Linked DNA regions of Homo sapiens: region 1 is linked to region 2. Evidence: fine-mapped expression QTL. Tissue or cell type: ileum. Region 2 holds a variant in brackets; the other region holds the start of a gene. All regions are shown on one strand. Distances are between the middles of the regions.

The links. PIP is the estimated chance that this variant, and not a neighbour inherited with it, causes the effect.
Region 1: IRF6 starts here. The variant in region 2 is fine-mapped to the expression of IRF6 in ileum (CEDAR, PIP 0.95).

Annotation. Positions count from the first base shown.
Region 1 is chr1:209,801,919-209,810,012 of GRCh38, forward strand. It overlaps IRF6 (interferon regulatory factor 6), which reads right to left and starts at 4,224. Exons shown (of 9, transcript NM_006147.4): 1 at 4,029-4,224; 2 at 54-125. RefSeq lists a silencer at 4,146-4,489.
Region 2 is chr1:209,530,979-209,539,086 of GRCh38, forward strand. It overlaps LOC105372898 (a long non-coding RNA gene), which reads right to left. Exons shown (of 7, transcript XR_922535.3): 4 at 269-396. Among named protein-coding and RNA genes, the nearest start is that of CAMK1G, 49 kb to the right of the region's middle. The variant G/A (reference allele first, on the strand shown) is at 4,285.

The DNA of each region.
Region 1 (8,094 bases), 270 kb after region 2:
ATGAGGGAGAAGTAGATAAGGGGTAGATCCTGGACTCCAGAGTCCTCACTTACATGGAAGAGCAGGCAGTGTGTCCACAGGGATCTGAAGAGTCGGCTTGTCTTTCCCTTGACCGCTCAAAGATTCTGTATGGAGAAAAGGAGGGGTCTCAGCTGGCTATCCATACAACAATCCAGTGTCTGGGAGAAGGCTTGGGAACACTGGCGACAAAGGCTGAGAACACGTCTCCACTACTGAGTCTGGTAAAGCTCAGAAGCCCTAGAATAACCAAATACTAAAGTACTAAGAGTACTTAGAGTACTAAAAGCAGTCATGAGACAAGCTTTGCATGGCTAGGACAGCCTCCTCCCTTGGGTCTGTTTATCTCCCAGTGAAGGCTGGAGTGAACCAATTGGTTGCAGGAGCCAGCATGGGTAAAGTCTGCAATTGATTCTTGTAAAAATACATGGGCATAGCAGATAACATTCAAGAGCAGCTGGCACTCACAGCAGAAAACAAAAGCCTTCCCAGATTGGGTGACTGATAAAAAAACAGTCACTGGAGAATTGTTTGTCTGAGATGTTGTGTTTGGATTTTTTGGTGTTCTTATTTTGTTTTTACTTAAGATGAGAATGAGATGCCTGGAAAAAGAACACTCATTCAACAAATATTTGTTCATCAGCTACTGTGTGCCAAGCACGGTGTTAGTTACTAAACACTGACGCTCCATGTTCCTTCTTGAGAAACTCCACACTGGAACTTCTCAAGCCCCACAATGGCCTGAGAAGGAGGGGAAGATAAATAGGTCACCTTCATACCCAGAAAGATCCCTACCTGGACCACAGTTCTGAAACCAAACAACCTTACAGCAAAGCAGCTAAATATGGGAATAAACTGTGCCAGGTGGGAAAGAAAAGAGGTTAAAAGGGTCAGCTGAAGGCTCCTACTCAGAAGAGCTTAGCTGACGGGGTGGCCCATAACACCACTTCTCTCCCCAGCCAGACTCCCAACAAATGTGAAAAACCCAAACCCAACTCAGCGTCTGGCACTTTAAGAGCAAGGCAAGACCTGCTCTCACCTGAGCTTTCTGACCCAATTACCAAGTCCTGCAACTGAAACCTTCCCCCTGGGAGCATAGTGGGTAGGTCAGGTTGGCACGCAGTGTTCAAGTACCCCCATGTAGTTGGCCTTGAATTACGGTGTTTTGTAGGGCAGCATGTGAAACCATCAAACCATGGAGTGCATTATAAGCCTTATAAGGAGGAGGGGATGCATATTCTCTCAACGGCTAGTTCTACCTTCTGCTCCCCAGTCCTATCACTACTGAAAGGGGGATGGAGCAAGAGAAGGAAAAAGAGGATAGGGAAATAGGCACCAAACCAGTCAATCTAGTAAAGAGCTTTTGAGAATTTCCATTGCAATACTGGTAAGTGCTGTGTTTGGGCCTGTCAGACATTAAAATCCAACTCTTGACTGATAGTGGACTGGAAGAAAAGTCCAAAAGGACTTATTGTAGTTGATCCAAATCCCACCATGCAAAAATTAAGGCAATCAGGCCAAGACCAGGAGCTGCACCTGATGATGGGAAAGGAGAAGCAGCCACCCACAGAAATCAGTGATTAAGATCTAGAGCCCTGGGTTCTCAGTGTTCTCCTAAGATGGGACTACACAAGAGCAGCCTTGCCTCAGCCCCATGGAAGGAGCCCCAGCCTGCCCTCCTCCAAGCCCATGCCCTGCCTCTCTCACTGTAAACCCTCTCCACCTTCTGAAAGTCAGCCAAGATCTCCCCCACTCACCACCCAGTAACTACAAGTCTAAAAACAGGCAGAGATGGAACAATTGAAAACCCAAATGGCCAAGACAGAAACATTCATTACGTCACAACCACAGGCTGCAATATTAAGTAGCCATTAACAACAGGTGTCAGAATTTGTATTATACTCAAGGAAATGTTTACAATATGAAGTTGTGGGGGCAGGGGGAAACAGCATACAACTTGACTGTGTAGCACTATCTCCATCTTGTAACACAGCATATACTTGCATACATGTGCACATACACACAGAACTGAAAAAAGGAAATAAATACAACAATGCAACAAAATATTTGTAATGGTTATCTAGTGATGCAACTATGGGTGCTTTTTACATTCTCCCATATACATTATATATGATTCATATTTTCCTACAATGATATGTTTCAATTTATAATTTAAAAAACTACAAGTAATTTTTTCTTAACCTCAGGACAATAAGACATTTCTTATGAAGGATGGTAACAACAATCCTTTGTATCTGTGTAGGCTTTACAATTTTTACATGAACCTTTACCTAACATGTCTGATTTCATCCTCATAAACCTGAATGTGATATTACTATCCCCATTTTACATCTGGGCTGAGGTGCTTTATTTCCTAAGTCACAGTGTTCTGTACCAAACCCTGCCACTGCACCTTGTCTTCCATGTCCCTCTCATCTTCTGCGCACCAAGAAAGTAAACTAAAAACATCAACAAAGATCCCAGCAGCATAGAGGGCCAATAAAGTGATTGAGGTGGAGACTGCATAACATCCACTCTCAAACACACCTAAATCAGAGTTCTCTTTCTAAACACTCTTGCCACCCAAATCCCAACGCCTGAAGAACCACCTTAGCCTAGTTGAACTCATCTTGGTATCTCTAGCTGCCATCACAGCAAAATGTAAGGCCTGTGTCTCTAACAGGTACTTAAACAGCCAAAGGACAATGATGCTAACCTATCTATTCCCCTCACAGTGAGCATAGAGGAGGGACACTTTCAGCCTCCTCCGAGCATAACTGTCCTCTCCCATACCCCTATTCTAGGGAGCAGGTCCTCCATAAACACCCTCATTGCCACCTCCATAGCTCCTCCCCAGACTAGTTTCCAGGGGCACTGCCACACAAAAGCCGAGATTTGGCCGTCAGTGGTTTTGCTCAGGTTAAAACACACGCCATTTCTCGCAGACAATTCTTAGCAGTCCCAGCTCTTCCCTTTCTCCTGAAAGAAATGAAATGCCATCGTCTAAGTTCCGTTCCTCAGGCTTCCCTGTTTAGCCCTGCTTAGGGGTAAACTGCAGGCCTCTAGTCAAAATGCCCACACCCTTCCCTTCTGCTGGATGGAAGCTGGGGGATGGCGAATGGGAGTTACAAGGTATTGAGTGCCACTGTCATACATCATACACACGTCTCATCCTAAACCACACTCCTGGGTCAACACCAGCTTTCACCAATCCCACCCAAGCGCCTTCCTCTCTCTATCCATCTCTTTTCCCTGACTTCCACTCTTGACATCCACCAAGAGAACAGGTTGGAACAGGATGACCCCTTTACCACAAAGCAGGCTCCCTGTAAAGAGTGACACCTCAGGCCTCCTTTCCAAGTCAGGCCTGGGAGACTTTCCCCATTCTCCACACCACCCTCCAGCCCCTTCGGGCAAAGAGGGCCCACCCCCAGAGCAACCACACCCCAGCGCCACCCTCCCCAGCACCTAGCTCCGCTCCTTGGAAATCCAAGGTTGTCTCCCAGGCCCAGGGCGAAGGGCCTAACTGTGCCAAACAGACTCAGGGAGGGAAGACAAACCGCCAATGCTCCAAAGCTCCTGGCCACCCTCACTCCAGTTTCCCAAAACGCCCACTAGGATCAAGGACCTGCGGACCTGGGAAGTCCCCTCTCTGGGACACAGGGGCCAGCCGCAAGTTGGTAAGACTGAAGGGGGCGCGGTGCTTTAGCTCTACCGGATAGTGGGGTTGTTGACGGCCGAGAGCAGTGCCCTCCGCTTCGGCGGTGGGGGTAGGGAGAGTAGACACAAGTGTAGATTCGAGAGGGGCCTAGCGCTACAGAACTGAGGCCGCCCCAAAGCTATCTGGAAAAGGGCGACAGGCACCCAGCCCCAGTGGGTACCCACCCCAAACACACAGATGCCCCCAAGCAAGTTCTCTCACCCCCTACAAACTCCGGGGATGGGTCCTACCCCACCCACGGGGGAGCCTCTCCTCCCTCAAGCTGGTCCCCAGAAGTTGGCGTACCCACCTTTGCTCAATCTGTCCACCAGAAGCGGACGTCCCTCCGAACCAAGTCCGCAGCGAAGATCACCCGTCGCTACCACGCTCCTCGACGTCTTAGCCAAGGGGCGCCTGGCTCTACCCAAGTAGGGACTGCAGGTTCCTCTCCCCGTCCCGCACCAGCCCTTACCTGCCCAGCCCAGGTGCGCCGAGCTCACGTCAGCGCCTCGCCCCAGGACGCCGCAGCCTTCGCATCCGCCCGGCCACGCCTCCCAGGTGTGGCCACGCCCCCCGGCGTTCGGGATTGGCGAGTTGCAAGAAATATGACACTCCGCGTTTCTGGGCTGCCCGGCCCAGCGGCGTCCGTCCAGCGTCCCACCCTACTCCTCCGCTTCTAACTCCGGCTAAGAAAGTCCCAGATTCAGGCCTAGCCTTACGGCTCAGGGCTGGTGGTCCTGGGAACTGGAAGCGACTGGGAGTTCAGATCTAAGTCGAGAGGGTGCCTCCCTCCTTCACGGCCCATAATTACCCTGCAGTATGCAGACAGTTAAGCACAAATAAGGGTTTTGAGATTCTGGGTTGGCCCTACTACTCGTGGGCCTGTGTAAGTGGAGTTGCACATGAAGAAGAGAACCAGGACACTTGGTCCTGTCTGGGAGAAGCCATAGGCTTTCAGGACTAGAATTCTACCTTTACTCTGCCTCTTACCCGTGTGACCCTGGGTAAGTTACTTAGCTTCTTGGCTTCTTGGTTTCAGTTTCCTCATCTCTTCAATGAGAATAATAATTCCTTCCTTCTTTTTTGTTGTTGTTTGCTTTTTTCTCTTTCTTTTTTCTTCCTTTTTTTTTTTTTTTTTTTTTGGAGATGGGGTCTTGCTATTAAGTTACACAGTCTGGTCTGCAACACCTGGGCTCAAGGGATCCGCCTCAGCCTCGCAAAGTGCTGGGATTACAGGCACTGGCACCCAGTTCAATTCCTTTTTTTTTTTTTTTTTTTTTTTTTAGGCAGGGTCTGGCTCTGTCATCCAGGCTAGAATGCAGTGGCACAATCATAGCTCAACCTCCTGGGCTCAAGCAATTATCCCACCTCACCCTCCCAAGTAACTGGAAATATAGGCATGGGTCACCATGCCCGGCTAATTTTTTTTTTTTTTTTTTAGAGACAGGGTCTGACTATGTTGCCCAGACTGGAGTTCCTGCTTCCTCTGATCACTATCGTGTAATGAGTAAAAGCATAGCCTCTGGAGCCAACTATTGGGGTTTAGACCCCAACTCCATCAGTTACTACAGACTTGGGAAAGTTTCTTAAGCTTTTTAGGCCCTGGTGTCTTATCTGTAGAAAGAGGTTAGTAATAGTACCTACCTCAGGGGTATTGTGGGAATTCAATAACTACATGTAAACTGCTTGCAACAATATTTAGCACTTATCAAGTGCTTTATATGTACTTGCAATTATTATTGGCATAAAGATTAAAAATACCATATAGACAGTGCGTCAGAGAACAAGAAGGCATTCCTTGTTATTACCTGAAATTCAAGTCCTGCATGTACCCTAACAGGTGCTTGATGAGATTGCCCTCACCTTCCTCATCTATCTAGAGGACCGGTTTGCAGGAGGCTGTGCAACAGTAAATGAGACTTTTAAAAATCCCCCACCCTCAACCACTGAGCTGTCGTAGGTGAAATGGGGCATGCGCAGGTCACTTAGGTTTTGGTGTTTAAAGTAATGAGTGAGAAACTGTGGAGGAGTGGTACAATGAGTTGAACTGTCACCCACATACAAAAAAATTTGTATTTGTATTTTGAAGTCCTGACCACCCCCACTGCAACCACAGCCAGATGTCAGAATATGACCTTATTGGGAGACAGGATCCTTATGGAGGTAATCAAGTTAAAACGTGGTTATTAGGGTGAGCCTGAATCCAATATGAATGGTGTCCTTATAAAAGGAGGAGATTTGGACACAGAGGCAGATACCCACAGAGGGAAGGTGATATGAAGAGACATAAAGAGAAGACAGCTAGCTGCAACCCAAGGAGAGATACCTGGAATAGAGCTCTTTTTTTTTTTTTTTTTTTCACATCCCTCAGACCCTTGATTTTAGACTTTTAAACTCCAGAACTATGAAACAAAAAATTTCTGTTGTTCAAGCCACCCACTCTGAGGTACATTGTTATGGTAGCCCTAGCATACTCATACAAGTGTGTTGAAGAGCCCCAGATTGATAATAATGTAGGCATGATTCCAAGTCCCAATTTAGCTTTGGAATGTAGCCAGCAAAGGCCTGGGAAGGCAGCAAGGCCCCAAGGCCTGACTCAGCCAGCCTCTGTCTCAACCACTGCCCTGTGGCCACTCTTCCCTTCACTGGGGGAAGGGCAAGCTCATCAGCACAGCTAGCTGTTTACTGCTGATGAGCTCACTAGACAAACAGCATCTTCCATCTGGCCCAGGGCTGGGCTCTGGGGACCAAACAAGCTCCACTGCAGGTGTATGAGAGGGATGAGGGGTAAGGCCATTGGGAGAGTGTCATTTGAGGGGAGTCAAAACCCCAGTGGCATACAAGTATGAGCCCACACACAGGCACTCACTTTTGCACCAGCTGAAATTCCCATGACTAAGGGGATGTCTTAAGGACCTTCTTTAGAAGACATATATTTTGGAATCAGAAAACTCAAGCTGGGAGGGTTCTTCTGGACTATCTAGATCAAGACTAAAACTGACTTAGCCAGTTTTTACCCACACAGTATTTTAAATATCAGGAGGTATCACATAAACATCAAAATTCTCAGCATCTCTTAAAGAGTCAAGTGCCCTGGATGCTCTACCAGCAGTTCTACCTGGCAACAGTTGCCCATTTAGAGGGAGTCTACACGTTACAGCCAATACAAACTCACTCTATTGAGCTCACTAATTTACTTTAATTGCCTGACCCTGTAGGCATCTGATTGCAACTTCTAGTCTAAATTCTCCCTTTTCATAGATGAGAAAACTGCGGCCCAGCGAGGTCAAGTGATTTACTCAAGGTCACATGGCATATTAGCCACAAACCAAGACTAGAACACAAACCCGGGGCTCTATCCACTTGGACCCCTGCTCAGCTCCGCAGCCAAAGTCTATTCTGACCTGTTCTGCACTGGCTGTTAACGATTTAAAAAAAAAAATCGCCAGGTGCAATCGCTCACACCTGTAATCCCAGCACTTTGAGAGGCTGAGGCGGGCAGATCACCTGAGGTCAGGAGCTGGAGACCGGACCGACCAATATGGTCAACTCTACTAAAAATACAAAATTAGCCAGGCTTGGTGGCGCATGCCTGTAATCCCAGCTACTCGGGAGGCTGAGGCAGGAGAATTGCCTGAACCCAGGAAGTGGAGGTTGCGGTGAGCCGAGATTGCACAATTGCACTCCAGCCTGAGCAACAAGAGGGAAACTCCATCTCAAAAAAAAAAAAAAAAAAAATCACCCATGGATCTAGGTACTGTTGATATTGTTGATATTGCCATAAACAAAACCAAGTCCCTACTCTCATGTCACTCAACTGAAGAATTAATGAAAGGGGGTAAAGCAGGTGGAATTAAGGTAGAGATCAGGAGGAACTCCCCGGCTCTGCAGGCAACAAGCCCTGACAATAGGCCACCCTGATGTCTTCTATTCTGATACACGCCTCATCTGCTTGATCTGGGGAATAAGAACATCTTGTGAGTCTTTCCACAAGCTCTTGAGGAATCAGTTCTTCTGTATTCTCAAAAGAGCCTCTTCAGGATTCAGTCATTCCCAACATGCCCTGGGCCTGCAATGCTCCCATCATTTTGCCCTCCATTGATAATCAGGTGCGGCATTGCTGACTCACTAGTGAGTCTGAGTTTCAGGTAGTGGGACGTACATTTCAGCACGGGGGCCCTGATTCACAGCCACAGGGAATGAGGGAATTCCCCTCTCCTGTTCCCAGTCAGCTCTCATTTGGTAGGAAAGAGTTTCTTTTTCCACCCAGAGACTTTAAACTCTACAATATCAGACATGTGACAATAAAACCATGAACCCAAATCCCACTCTCTTCTTGGCAGAGCAGAAAGCGTGGCAACTGGGACTCCTCCCAA
Region 2 (8,108 bases):
CATGTGCCAGACCCTGTACAAAGAGGACACAAAATGAGTAAGACATGGACTGTCCTTAAGGAACTCATGTTCTCACTGCACCAAGGGTGGAGGTTGTGAATAAGGCAAAGGAACACAGCTCCCCGCCCCGTTCACCCTGTACACAGCCCTGTACACCCTGTTCCCGGGAACAGCAGAGGTAGGAAAGTCACAAATTGTACATCCACCCCAATCTTGCAACAAGAGTGTATTAAAAGCCATTTTTCAAGGCTGAGTAAGAGTTTGTGACCTGATAGACGATGGCTGGCAAACTCATTTCATCATAAATATCACAGCAGATAATATACTTCAATACAAGTGATGCATCTGCCTATGCCAGGATCCTCAGAGTGAGTAATGCTCCTCCAATATGGGCTTCTGAAAGATAAACAAATTATGGGCTGTAATTACCTGACATTTGAGTTTCCTTTTTATGAGATTTTCTTCACTCTAATCACACTCAGAGTGGGAGGATGGAAGATACAATTGGGGCTTAAAGAAGGGAAGAAGAGGGGTCTGCTCTCTCAGCAGAGAGGCGGATGCCAGATAAACAGCTCCTAAAGAAGGTGCTGGTGCTTCTGTCCCTCTGGAATGAGAGGAAAGGCTCAGCAAGTAGGAAGATGTGCAGAAAGTGGAGAAATGAGAAAGGAGAGAGAGTGGTGATTTCTCAAGTGTGTGCATTTTTAGACGATGCCTGTGACAGAAAAGAAATTCTCTTCTCTGACGCATACATATCACATAAAGACATAATGCATGCTATGCAGACAGAATTCTACATCTTCAAACTCTCCCCGCTGCAGAGCTCAGGCGGAGATTCACACACTCTCTAGCCCACTGTGGACCTTGAATTTGACCCTTCCTCCTTTCTGAAGGCAGCATTTCTCATCTCCCCTTCAAAGGTTTGCCTTAAACTTCACTTTTACAAATCCTTTACCTCCTGATAGGCTCCTGTCTGCCAACATCGATTGTTCCTCCAAAATGTTTCCTCTATGGGCCTGTTGTTAATATTTGTACTTGAAAATTAAACCTCTCCTTACACAGGGGACCAGACTCTATTGAGTCTGTGGCTTCTTCTGAAGGGTCAGAGAAATATTTCAAGATGGGAAGGAAGTGTGCCATAAAAAATAATAAATCAACAAATGAGAGGGTCACAGTGTAATGTAGTAATCTCTAAATTGGACGTCAGGAAATCTGGGTTTAATTAGAATCTTCACTGTTTCTTATGAAAGTGATGTTTCTTTGCTTCAAGTCAATTTTCTCCTCACTTAAAATGGGAATCACTTATTTGGTAGGTTGCTTTAAGGATCCAACGTCATAATATCCATAAAATTCCATGTCACCTTCTGGGTTCCATAAATATTTATTTCATCCCAGCCTCCTAAGTCTGAATAATAAAGGACTATAAATGTGCACAGCATTCTTTGTTGTACTTTTGAAGGTCTTTTCACACTAACAACATTCTCCAGAGGCAGGAAAGACTAAAGCAGTTGCCTTTTTTTTAATTGATGAAGCCATTGAAAGAATTCAGGGAGGTTAAGAGACTTGCCCAGAGCTATGTGGAGACTGAAAACCCAGATTCTTGAACCTTTCTGTGGTCCTCAAAGACAGCATACTTACCTGGGAGGGTCAGGTCAAAAGGGGGTCCCTTTTATGAACTATTTAAAAACTCCTGGCATTTCTGAGCAGAGAAGCAGCCCATGTGGCAACTGAGGTGTGAATCCAGTGGATATGAACTTTGCCTCAAAGAAAATGAGCCAGCTGACACCTGATGCCAGAAATGCAATGGGTGAGATCAATGGTTTGAATCTGAAAAAAGGCAGTGGGGGGGGTGGGGTGTGTGGGGGGCGTGCTATGCATAGGGAGAAGAAGTATGCATGAACTTAGTGATAAATTCATTTGTTTCCTAGGGTACCACAAATTGGTGGCTTAAAAGAACATATTATCTCACTGTTCTGGGAGCTAGAGATCCAAAATCAAGATGTCAGCAGGGTCATGTTCTCTCTGAAGGTGCTAGGGAAGATTCCTTCCTTGACTCTTTGTAGTTTTGGGTTATTGCCAGCAATTCATGGTGTTCCTTGGCTTGTAGACACATTGCTTCAGTCTCTTGTTTCCGTAGTCACACAGTGATCTGCCAGGGTGTGTCTGTTTTTGTGTCTCTTCTCCTCTCCTTATGAGGATACCATCATATTGGATTCATGGTGCACCTGTACCAGAATGACCTCATCTTAACTGAGATGGCCATTAATTAAATAACCAATTGAATAATTAAATAACCAATTAAATAGGTCATTTGCAATGACCCAATTTCCAAATAGAACCACATTCTGAGGCTCCAGGTAGGACACAAATTTTGGGGGAACACTATTCAACCCAGCACAATAAGAAAATGAGAGCCAAGCTGAGGAGGAAGAATGAAAACCTGAGAAAGAAAACTAGGTGAAGAGGGAGACTATGAGACAGAAGACAGACAAAGTAGAGAGTGAGACAGAGACCAGAGGAGACAGAAGTGGAAAGACAGAGTGAAAAGATGAGAAAGGAAGAGAAAGAGAAGGATGCTAGTGAAGCACAGATACACAGACCCCTGCACACACCATGTGGGAGACACACAACAACTTGGTGTTTAAAGAATTTCCCCCAAATATGCACCTTCTCTCCCACTAGATGCCCACTGGGCAGCCCTAAAGCTGTTACTGTAGAAACTGAAGTAGACATCCTCTTTGGGGTTAATAGATGGCCCCAGTAAGAGAGACCAGTTAGTCCGTTGGCCCTCACATTCCTACTTCCTCCCATGACTCTGGCTCCAGGGGCTTCCAGTTTTCAACGTTAGAACCTCCGTGATGGTTTTTCAAAAAAAAGTCTTTTTTTCAAAAGGCCAATTTTCAGGTGGTGTTATGTTTATTTACCTCCTATAGAGCAGAAAATGGGCCACTCAGGAGATGCGATGATGACACTTCCCCCTTGAGAAGCAGCTGTTCCTAGCTTCTGGCAAGCTGCTTAGGGTCAGACTGTCCCCATTTTTCATCCAACCAGATGTCATCCAGCGTTATTCTACAGATTCCATGTCCTGGTCTTTTCCAACTCACTGGAGTTTTCCAAAGATCTCCAAAGAGGTGCTAGCCACTTTAGTATCAGCCAAAACTGACACCAGGAAGGAGGAATCATAAATTAGCAGTAGGAAGGAGGCCTTGGGGCTGGCAGAACACCAGTGTGCAGTGTGTGTGTGTGTGTGTGTGTGTGTGTGTAAGGGGGAGGTTTTCATGGAGAAATAGGTGGAGGTAGAAAGATATCCATCAATATAGACCAAGACCAAGCCATTTCCAAGTTACGGGGCTCTAGAACCCTCTTTGTCATTGGAAAAATCACGCATTCACTCAGAACAGAAAGTCACATAGGACAGCCAGAATTTATAAGCTAAGATGTGCTAAGTCTCCCCTTGCTTTATTTTCTTTTGCCATATTGAAAATTTAGTGAGTTTGGCTTTAGGATAATAGTCCCCACTCCTTCCCTATCATAGAAACCACCATTTAAAAAGAGAAAGCCACAAGCTTGCAGGTCTCCTAAGGGAAATTTCCCATGCCAGCCTGACCTGGCCAGTAGTGTGACGGGGGAGATGTGGGTGAAAGGACAGAGGTGGGCAGACACCACCATAGCATCGTGCTCAGCCGCTGTGCCATCCCTTCGGAGCAGTGAGAGGAAGAGCCCTCTACTGGCAGGAGCATCTTCTGGGCTTCTGGGCTCCCCAGTCCTCTCACCTCCCACAGCAGGAAAGGCAGTGAGGTGCGCAAGCCCATCTCCAGGGACAGCCACAGAAAGAGCAGTGAGTTAGGAGACATTTATCTCACATGGCCACACAATGGAGCATATGCCTTAATTGTCATAGCAGCTGTTATTCATTCGTTGTTTCTCTTATTTACTCATTCATAGTTTTTTTTTTTTTTGTCACCACGGTTACAGTGGTCTATGTTAAGTACTGAAGGTATCAAGATGAAAAAAAGCTCAGTTCCTAATTTTAATTCAAAGCAAGAGCAAAGCAAGAAAAAGGAAGTGTAGGGGCTGAGTGCTCAGGGTCACAAACTATAAAGGAATGGATTCTTTCACCTGAAGGCAGGCTTTCCCATCGCCCCCACAGGGCTGCAGGTGTTTGGGGCCTCTTCTAACTCTGGATCTCTCCTCTGCCAGGTGTCTAGCACCTCCCTGATGACCTGATGACTTAAGACTCCCTTAGATCATTCTCACAATCAACTATGGCACCCTAACCCGTGGGCA[G/A]AATAAAAACCTCAGGTCAAGGTGGTAAAAGAATTCTGGAAAGGACTGGAGATGTGGAAGTTTGCAGAGGGAGGTGGTTATTACTGACCTGCCTCCCCTCCTCAGGGTTCTAGGTTAAAAGAGAAGGCCAGACAGCCCAAGGGTATGAAATACAGTGAAATAAACAAACCAAAACAGACACGAGTTTTAAGCAGAACTAAGTAAAATCTATGATTGCGCTATGTACCCATAGTTCTCTTGCTAGACAGAATATTACTTGACCTGAGAAATACCCAGCCTGTAAATTTTTTGTCTCTAATATATTCTTGTGGTGATGTCCTCTTTTAGCATCTGACCAGCAATATTCTTATTTGAAAGCTGCAGAGACTAACTGTGGGCTTGTCATTTGCCATCGGTTCCCCACCTTTCCCTTGCTCTGCTATGTCTTGCAGGGATGACGAGGCCCTCTTGCCAGCTGGACTCTGCCAATGTTTCTGCCAATGGTGCACTGGTGGCAGCCTGGGGAAAGACGGGGAGGGAGGTCAGGGTAGTTATTTCTTCCTTGCTTTGCCTCAGGCCATGCCTCTGACTACATTGCATCAGGTAAGCTTCATCTCCACTAGACAAGGCATGATTGAAGCTCACATTGGTTAGCTTCAGCCTCCTCCTCCCACTATGACTCCAGTCCTTTGTAATTAACAACATTCTGCAACTGTTCATCTTTAGGTTTCTTCACCATTGTTTGGCTTTTCAGCTTCCCCATCATCCACCAATCCAATTCCTGATATCCAATTCTCTCCATTGAAAAACCTAGAGGGGCTTATGTTTTCCTAAGGGAAACTTAATACATTTCTGACTTGTTTAGTAGCAAAGTAATTAACTAGAAGGATGTTGGGTCATTTACAGAATTGCCAGGAGGCAGAGGGGCTATGCAGCCAGACACAGAGCAAAGTTCATTCCACGGAAACGACAGCAAGGACTCCTCCGCAGCCACTGCTGGACTCCAGAATGTGATGACCACCATGAGAACTCCACCAGCTGTGATGCTGAGCCTACCTCTGCTGCCCTTGGACACTCACTCCCAAATAAAGTTCAGATTGCTCTCTCTGATTATCTAACTTGTTAAGTCCACATCATTTTCCCCACCCTAGCTTCAGAAGACTGGAAAATTGAGTTTCTGATATTTGTTAACAGAGTCCAGATCCACATTTCAGTGAGACTTGCAGGGTCAAGAATTCTCCAAATATCAGAAGGAGATCAGATGCAGAAGAGCCAAGAGAAATAAATAAATATTTGTCCCAGGAATAAGACCAGGAGTTAGAGGCTGAGTTTCAGCCCTAGGGTCAGCATGTGAAGAAGAGAATCTCTCTAAGATCACTATGTTAAAGGCAACAGAAAGACTAGAACTCTGGGTGGGAGCTTTTGCCCTATGAGTATAATCACAGGCCTTCTCAGTACCCTTCAAATTGATAATGGGCAACCAGTATTTACAACTATAGGATAGCACAGCTTCCTACCCAGGACTGAATGTCTACCTCACTAAGAGTACTTACCAGATTTGGGGATCAGTCCTGACCCTAGCCAGAGAGAACTTAAGGAATCTCTGGCTTCTGAATCCACTCTGAGGATCCACATTGATTCCTAAGACATTTCTTATTTCTAGGAACTAGGAACTAGGTTCCTACCTTGTACCTCTGACCCAGCTCCGGGGTCTTGCCCTTCTTCCTGGAACCCTGCTGATTCTTAAGAACAAAGGTATTAATTAACATCCCCATTCAATCCCTCTGAAGTGTGGGTCTTGCCTCAGCCCAGCAGTTTTTGTGGTGAGGTCCTCTTTGTCTACCTCCAGATTTGATCTTCCTGTAGTCGCCCCTGCCTGAGCAACAGCCAGCCTGAAATTCCTCCTGTTACCTGCTCTTAGAGGCAGCTTGACATAATAGCAAAAGGATGGATTTCCTTTACATCCTGGAAAGTCAGTCAGACCTGGGTTTTAATCCCAGCTCTAACACTTACTGCTTGTATGAGCTTGGTGGGCTTCTGTACTTACTGTTTCTCTTGTGGTTCTCAAACCTTAGTATGTAAGTGTCTAAGTATCTGCTGTCCTGTTGTGTTTGTTGAAAAGGCAGATTCCTAGTTTCCTTCTCTTGGAGATTCCATTCCTTAGGTCCAAGGTGATTGAGATGCAGGTGGTTTACAGACCACACTTTGAGAATCACTGCCCCACCAGGTTTCCAAGTCCTGTTCATTGTCAATGTGGTTGTCATTCATTCAGTCAGCACTTCCCAGGGTTCAGGTGGGCAGGGGATGTGAGTAAGTACAACCACATCCTCTTATGTTCCAGCTGGAGGTTCCACTTCACCCAGACCTCCTGTATTAGAATCTTGGGATAAAAATGGAGCTGACGTATGCAATTCACCAAAGTTCCACATGTATCTGTTATACAAACCTCTGGTTCAAAAGCCCTGTATTACTGCTTCAGTACCAGACTTGACTCCAGTCCCCTTCCTGCCTTAATTTCCCACCTCCCCATCCTGTGTTCCACTCATACCCTTAGCTTCCCTGCAGCCTTACTTAAGAATAGGGCATTTGCTCTTCATAGATGCCATTTCAATGAGAGTTCCCTCTCAAGAAAGCTAAGTCTTTTTTTATTCTCCAAGATTTTATCTGTATCCATTTGGCAGGAGAGTAGATTCTATTATGATCATTACCCATATGGACAAGCAGCCAAGATTTAATATCTGTTGGTCAATAATAGCTTTCATAACTAATAGCTCTTGATGACCATCTAGAGGGGAGTGTGACCTTCTTATCCTCCTGGTCCCCTTTGCTGGCACTCACATATCCTCCAAAAACTGGGGACCTTGATGCCCACATACATAAGGACCCCCCTTCTCCCGAGGGAGCACACAGCACTTATAACCAGAGTGGGGAAATGGAAGACTGACCTCTCCATCCTCAAAGCCCAACCCATGTTTCACCTCCTCCATGAAGCCGTTCCTGATTCCAGTGCCCTGTGCTACTTTCCCTTCTCAGATTTTCTACCACATGCCATATTACACAGCTTAGCACTGGACTGTGTCCTACTTTGGAATGCTGTTTTTTATTTTTATTTTTTGCTTGTACTTCTTGCTTATCTAGCAATATTGCAGACTCTCTTAGAACTAAATCTTGATTTTAGACTTTCCTTGAAGAATCATGGAGGTGAAAAGAGAAACAGATCAAGGATCTGCTCAAGGATGTCACATTGGAGTGGGAGAGGGGGCTGAGGACATTGACCTGCCTGTGGAGGCAGAGTCTTCAGGCATCTCCCTCCAGGGTGAAGCTGAGGTACAGTATTAAAGGCTGTCATCACCTCCAACATGACTCAGGTCACAGTTGCTGGAGGAAGACCCACTGGTAGGAGAAAGGAAGTGCAAAGGACAGAGCACAAAGAATCCAGGTAGCTGTTGGTAAATACCAACAAGCAGTCACAATCCAAGGAATGTCCACTATCAGCTAGATGCAAAGTAATGGACTAGGGCATAATCCACCAGTTTTGTGGATCCAGGAAGAGGCAGAGTAGGGGTCCCAAGGCACCAGAATGGGATTTTCATTAGGTAACCAGCATTAGAGAGACTGAGCTCATGGACAGGAAAATCATCAAAATTACAGAGTGGAGCCTTCGAGACAGACACAAAAGAACTGTCTCGGAGGCTGACTCTGCTCAAATCCTCAGCAGCTTCTCTGGTCCTCCTGCTCCACCTCATCACCCCAGGGGATTTCTCCAGGCTTGAGAATTGACTCCCTCTCTCTCCTGTGCTGAGCTCTGTGGCAGGTTCTCTGGTTCCCAATATTTCAAGACTCCA